2 separate regions of the Homo sapiens genome follow, and region 2 is linked to region 1. Evidence: fine-mapped expression QTL. A gene starts in region 1. The other region holds a variant in brackets. All regions are shown on one strand. Distances are from middle to middle. Region 1 holds the start of PDIA4 (protein disulfide isomerase family A member 4). Region 2 overlaps PDIA4 (protein disulfide isomerase family A member 4).

Evidence for each region.
Region 2: its variant is fine-mapped to the expression of PDIA4 in whole blood (TOPMed, PIP above 0.99).

What each region holds. Positions count from the first base shown.
Region 1 is chr7:149,027,061-149,029,960 of GRCh38, reverse strand. It overlaps PDIA4 (protein disulfide isomerase family A member 4), which reads left to right and starts at 1,456. Exons shown (of 10, transcript NM_004911.5): 1 at 1,456-1,640. The coding sequence starts at 1,553. RefSeq lists silencers at 964-1,543, 1,614-1,683, 1,774-1,823 and enhancers at 1,148-1,741, 1,742-2,336.
Region 2 is chr7:149,006,344-149,009,243 of GRCh38, reverse strand. It overlaps PDIA4 (protein disulfide isomerase family A member 4), which reads left to right. Exons shown (of 10, transcript NM_004911.5): 7 at 934-1,085. Among named protein-coding and RNA genes, the nearest start is that of GHET1, 20 kb to the right of the region's middle. The variant G/A (reference allele first, on the strand shown) is at 1,702.

The DNA.
Region 1 (2,900 bases):
GTGAAACCCTGTCTCTACTAAAAATATAAAAATTAGCAGGGAGTGGTGGCGGGCGCCTGTGGTCCCACCTACCCGGGAGGCTGAGACAGTAGAATCACTTGAACCCAGGAGGCGGAGGTTGCAGTGAGAGGAGATGGCGCCACTGCATTCCAGCTTGGGTGACAGAGCAAGACTCTTGTCTCAAAAAATAAAATAACATGATACCGAACTGTCTGGTGGCCCACATTCATAGCACTCTAATAAATCAGTGTGTACAGTTGCATAATGTTCTGCCCTACAAAATTGACCAGGAACCATCAGATTAATAGGCATTCAACAAAAAAATTAAGTATTTTTAATTGCTAAGGTCTGTGAGTTATCCCTTTTTTCTTCCTCACGTAATAATCTGCACACACGAGAAAATATTCCTGAACTTGAGTTTCTATTTTTTTTCTTTTCCCTATTTGCCTTCTCAAACTCCCAGGTGTTAAAAAAAAGTCTCAAACTTAATGCACATTACAGGCTTCTTTTCTGACATACAAAAATCGTCATCTTAACCTAGTTTTCTTCTCCAAAGTGGTCAAGAGGGAAAACCTCAAGCTTTTATTCAGATCTATGTAAACCACTAGATTGCCTATCTGGTATTTCCTTTTGCAGAAAATCACTAGAAAACTAAATAAGACGAGGCAAAGTTTAGACAAGAATCTGATGGCTTGTTTCTCCGAGATGCAACCTTGGAGAGAGGCTTCCCCAGATTCTAGTCTGGATTCACTTTACTGCATGCTCTTCCCCGCTCTCTAGCTCAATACTCCGGAGAGAAATGAAACTTTTATTTGCTCGAGCAGAAAAAGAAATTAAGAAGGCCACGAACATGCAGCGGACTTGGAGCCCCTTTCTAGCAACAAACAGGCTCGTGCTCCTCCGCCCGCGTTGGTCTCCAGCTTCCCAGAGCCCCGGCGGGTTGCGAGGACCGCCCTGCTCGCCACTGCTCCCCACCGCTCCGGTACCGACACGTGTTCTTACTGCCAAGTTCGGCCGCAGGATGCTGAGCCGAGCCCCGCCCCGCTCCACATTTCCCAGGCTCCGCCTCTCCTGCCCCGCCCCCGGCACCGATTGCCAATAGCGCCCCGAGGCGTAGCCAGGTCCCGCACTCCCCGTGCCCGGCCCGCCGCCTTTGTTCTCCCCCGCTCTCCCTCTTGGCCTGTGCGCTCCCGGCAAACCGAGTGGCAGCCGCTGATTGGTGGTTGTGGCGCAGCCAATCAGAAGGGGGCACCTCACGTTAGGGCTCGGAGTTTTAAACGCGCAGCCGAGGGCCGCGCGCAGGAGTAGGGAGGGCCTAGGGCGGCGGAGCCGACTCGTCGCGGCCGAGGCGCGCGCGGTCCGTGCCGGCGTCAGTCTGGGATTGGCCGGCCCGCGACTTCCTCCGCCCCCTGCCAATCGCCGGGGACGACTTCCGTGGGTTTTTCCGGCTCCCCCGCGTCGCTAAGGAGCGACGGGCTGTCGGCCAGACCCCGAGTTCTCGGTGCGCTCAGCGGCCGCCGACGCTAGGAGGCCGCGCTCCGCCCCCGCTACCATGAGGCCCCGGAAAGCCTTCCTGCTCCTGCTGCTCTTGGGGCTGGTGCAGCTGCTGGCCGTGGCGGGTGCCGAGGGCCCGGACGAGGGTGAGCGGCAAGCGCGCCGCGGGTCGGGCTGTGCTTGCGGGGGCTGCAGAGCTGTGCGGGGGCCTGGGCCCTGCGACCCCGGCGGGCGGGCTTCCGCGCGGTCAGCTCCAGAACTAGTGATGGGCGCCGAGCCCGGGGTAAACTTGGCGGAGTTGAAGGGGCGGGGGCGGTGGCTGTGGCAGTGGCAGGATCGATTTGGGGTTCCCGGGAGAGGAAGGTGGCCGGGGTCTCTTGGGCTCCGACGCCCTGGAAGACCCCTGTCACCCGAGGCTGGGAGAGGGCTGCAGAGCGCCTTTTTTGCAGCTGGGTCCTTCGCCTTAATTTACAGATTTTCGTCAGGTCCAGGCTAACTCCAGGCGAACGCGCCCAGGCAGTGGGAAGGGAGAGGGAGAGCCACTGGAGAGAAGGGGCGAGGGCGTGAAGAAACAAGTGCGAGTTCTTTGGAACAGCAAGCATTCCTTTTCAAAATGTGGTCTGTAGATTTGGAAATGATTAATCCATAGATTCTGGAGAAAGGGATGGCTTGGTTTGCACCTTTGAGAAACTAGAGATACCATTCCTTCTGCATTTAGCATTTACTGTGTGCCAGTCCCTGTACTGGGTTCTGGGAGGAAAAGATTGTGAGTGTGGTCCCTGCCCATGAAGCGCGTACTCCAGTAGGAATAGTAACAACTACTTCATGGTCCCTGCATTTTTCTTCGAAGTGAGCTAGCTGCAGACATAAGAACTCTGAAGATTAGGAAGTGCTAATTAAGGAAAAGTTGTTATTCCTAGAGAATAAGGCATCCAGGTACTGGTCTTTACCTTCTTCCTCTCTGCCCTTACTTTTAATCACTAGCTTTTTAACCTTCTGAGTTTGTTCTAATATAAATATACACTCTTTGATAATGTTAGTGTGTAGGGAAATCGTGAACTTTATACTCTTTCAAACAGATTGAGTAACTTCTGCGTGGGTCACTGATTCAAAAAGAGTCTTTGCCCAAATAGAAAAGGAAGTAAAAACCCACACTCGGCGAGAAAAACACCTGCCGAAAGGAATCCGATAGCGGGACTGCTTACAAATTGTGTCTTGAGACCTTTACCCAAATCATGTTTGTTTAAATAGTGTTTATTTAAATACAGATACCCAAAATACACTGAAGCAGAATGCAGGGGTGGGCCCCGGAATCTGCGTTTTAAGTCAGTTTTCCCTTGAGACATAGAATTAACTTCGGGAGGCACAGTGAAAGTTGAGGACCAGTGTGGGTGGAAGATGCTTTT
Region 2 (2,900 bases), 21 kb after region 1:
AACTCTTGGGGTTGGCTGAGCACAGTGGCTCATGCCTGTAATCCCAGCACTTGGGGAGGCCAAGACAGGCGGGTCACTTGATGTCAGGAGTTCGAGACCAGCCTGGCCAACATGGTGAAACCCTGTCTCTACTAAAATTACATAACATAGCCAGGCATGATGGCATATGCCTATAGTCCCAGCTACTTGGGAGGCTGAGGCAGGAAGGAGAATTGGCTTGAACTTGGAAAACAGAGACTGCAGTGAGCCGAAATCACGCCACTTCACTCCAGCCTGGGGGACAGAGCAAGACCCCGTCTCAAATAAATAATAAATGAACTAACTCCTGGGCTTAAGCAGTCCTCCTGCCTCAGCCTCACAAAGTGCTGAGATTACAGGCGTGAGCCACTGTGGCCGGCCAGGATTTAGACGTTATACCTTGTACCAAGTTTTTAAAAACGAACCTCCTTTCAAGTGTTTAAGTTATAGGAATTGTCCACACAATTTTTGGTGGTGACTTTTTTTCTTTTCTTTTTCTTTTTTTTTTTTCTTTTTAAAGACAGTCTCACTCTGTCGCCCAGGCTGAAAGTACACAGTGGCGTGATCTCGGCTCACTACAACGTCCACCTCACCTCCCCAGTTCAAGCAATTCTTGCGCCTCAGCCTCCCAAGTAGTTGGGACTACAGGCTTGCATCACCACACCCGGCTAATGTTTGTGTTTTTAGTAGAGACAGGGATTCACCATGTTGGCCAGGCTGGTCTCAAACTCCTAACCTCAAGTGATCCACCTGCCTGGGCTTCCCAAAGTGTGCTGGGATTACAGGCGTGAGCCACCGCGCCCAGCCTACAGTGGTCATTTTCAGAACATTTGCTTTGGCTGATGTGGGTAACGAATTAAATCTCAGACATTTAGGCAATTTTCAAAATTACATCTTATTCTGTTAACGTTTCAGCTAACAACCTGAGAGAAGATTACAAATTTCACCACACTTTCAGCACAGAAATAGCAAAGTTCTTGAAAGTCTCCCAGGGGCAGTTGGTTGTAATGCAGCCTGAGAAATTCCAGTCCAAGTATGAGCCCCGGAGCCACATGATGGACGTCCAGGTAAGCGGGCCCCTCTGCCATGCCAGCCCTGGACACCCCGCAGGCATGAGGACTCTGCTTTGAGCCACCTCTGAGGTTTCAAACGTGGAGGTTTCGCTCTTGTCTGCAGGGTCTGGAACTCCTTTTCCAGCCCGTTCTCCCCACCCCACAGGTTTTCTGCAGGCGGCCTGTGGTCTCTCTTTGCCGGAGGGACAGGGCTGGGGCTCCCGCACACCTGGCAGGTCCTGGGGCTGGGCAGAGCTCCACTTGGTTTTGCCAGAACAGTTGCTGCCACCCTTTGTCCCTCCTGGCAGGCAATCACCAGTCTCCCTCCAGTGCCTGTTCCACTGTGGGTTTGGCCTGGGCCAGCACATGGTGCTCCGTTGAGGCCAAGTCGTGTTTGTTCGGGCAGCTCCAGCTGGGGGCTACAGAGGGACAGCATCCCTGTCTGTTCACCAGAGGGAGCTGTTGACCTTGGTGGGTGGATTTTGCCTTTCTTTCCATTACTGCACCCCTGCACTTCATCCTCCTAGAGTGTGACACACTCAGCCCTAGAGGGGCAGTGGGAGTTCCCAGCCCAAGGGGAACCTGGGGCCAGTTCAGCCTTCTGAGTGCTTTAGAAGGGGCCCTGCACTTC[G/A]GTGAGTAGATCTCAGATTTGGAAGGATCTTAGATGTCGAGTTTGAAGCTTTGGTTTAACAGAGATTGGGCTGCAGAGAAGTGAGCTCTACCCCCCACCCCAGACCCCACAGCTCCTGGTGGGAAGCAGAGCTGAGATTGGGGTGAAGGGGCCTTTCCAGGTCCTACTGGCCCATAGTGTCAGGACCCTGGCTGTTTGGGCTGTGGGCTCTCATGGGACCTGGAGCAGGGGGTGTGACAGGACAGGAATCCCGGGGGCCTGCACCAGAACATGGCAGTACCTTGGAGAGAACCACCCTGAATCTTTCTGGTCCCCATGTCCTCTGTTTCCTTCCTCAGTTTTTAGTCCTGTCCCTCTTTCTCAAGGTCTGTGTGTCCATCCCATCTGTTTCTCTGCCAACTTGAAGCTCAGGGCAACTCTCCTCTTCCCTGGACTCATAGTGGCTGCTGCGACCCCTCCCCCCAGCTTCACTTCCTTCCATCCAGAGATAAGATCCTGGGCCCAAAGAGGGGTCCTGATGAGCTTGGGGGGCCATTGATCCCGAGAATCGGACACAGCTCTGTGTGTGAGTGCATATTCCAGGAAAGGGGTCTGTAGCTTTCAGTAGACGCTTCAAGATCTATGCAGTCTTGTCTGTTGGGCACATTGCTGCTGCTCCCAGTTCTTCTGGCGTTTCCCTGCTGAGTGAAGTGCACGCAGCGCCATGTCATGGTTAAAGACTCCACGGCCTCCTGCCACCTGGGAGATAGTTGGATTATCTGTGCCTTAGCATGGCCTCCCAGGCCCTCCTTACCCACCTTTTCAGCACATCCCACCCTCCAGTGCTGTCACGCCAGATCCTGTTTGTGCCTCGTGCCCTGCCTCAGTCTCTGCTGCCTCCCTGAGTGCCTTCTGCTCCCTTCTCACCAGCGGGGCCCTCTTGTCCTTCAGTGCCACACAAGGACCCCTCCCTGAGTATCCCATCCCCACGGAAACCCTTGGGCTCACAGGCCCACCCACCACTTGCTGGCTGCGCAGCCTTGGGCAGGTGGCTGACCTTGCTCTGCCCACCCCTGGAGGGCGATGTCTGTGAGGGACTCCAGTCGTTGTGAAGTGTGAGCCCTCAGGACCTCCTGCGTGAAGACCGCACAAGCTGAAGGTGGAAAGTTCCACACAGCCCAGCCCGTGATAACCCTTCCTGTCTGCCAAGAGCCAGGCCT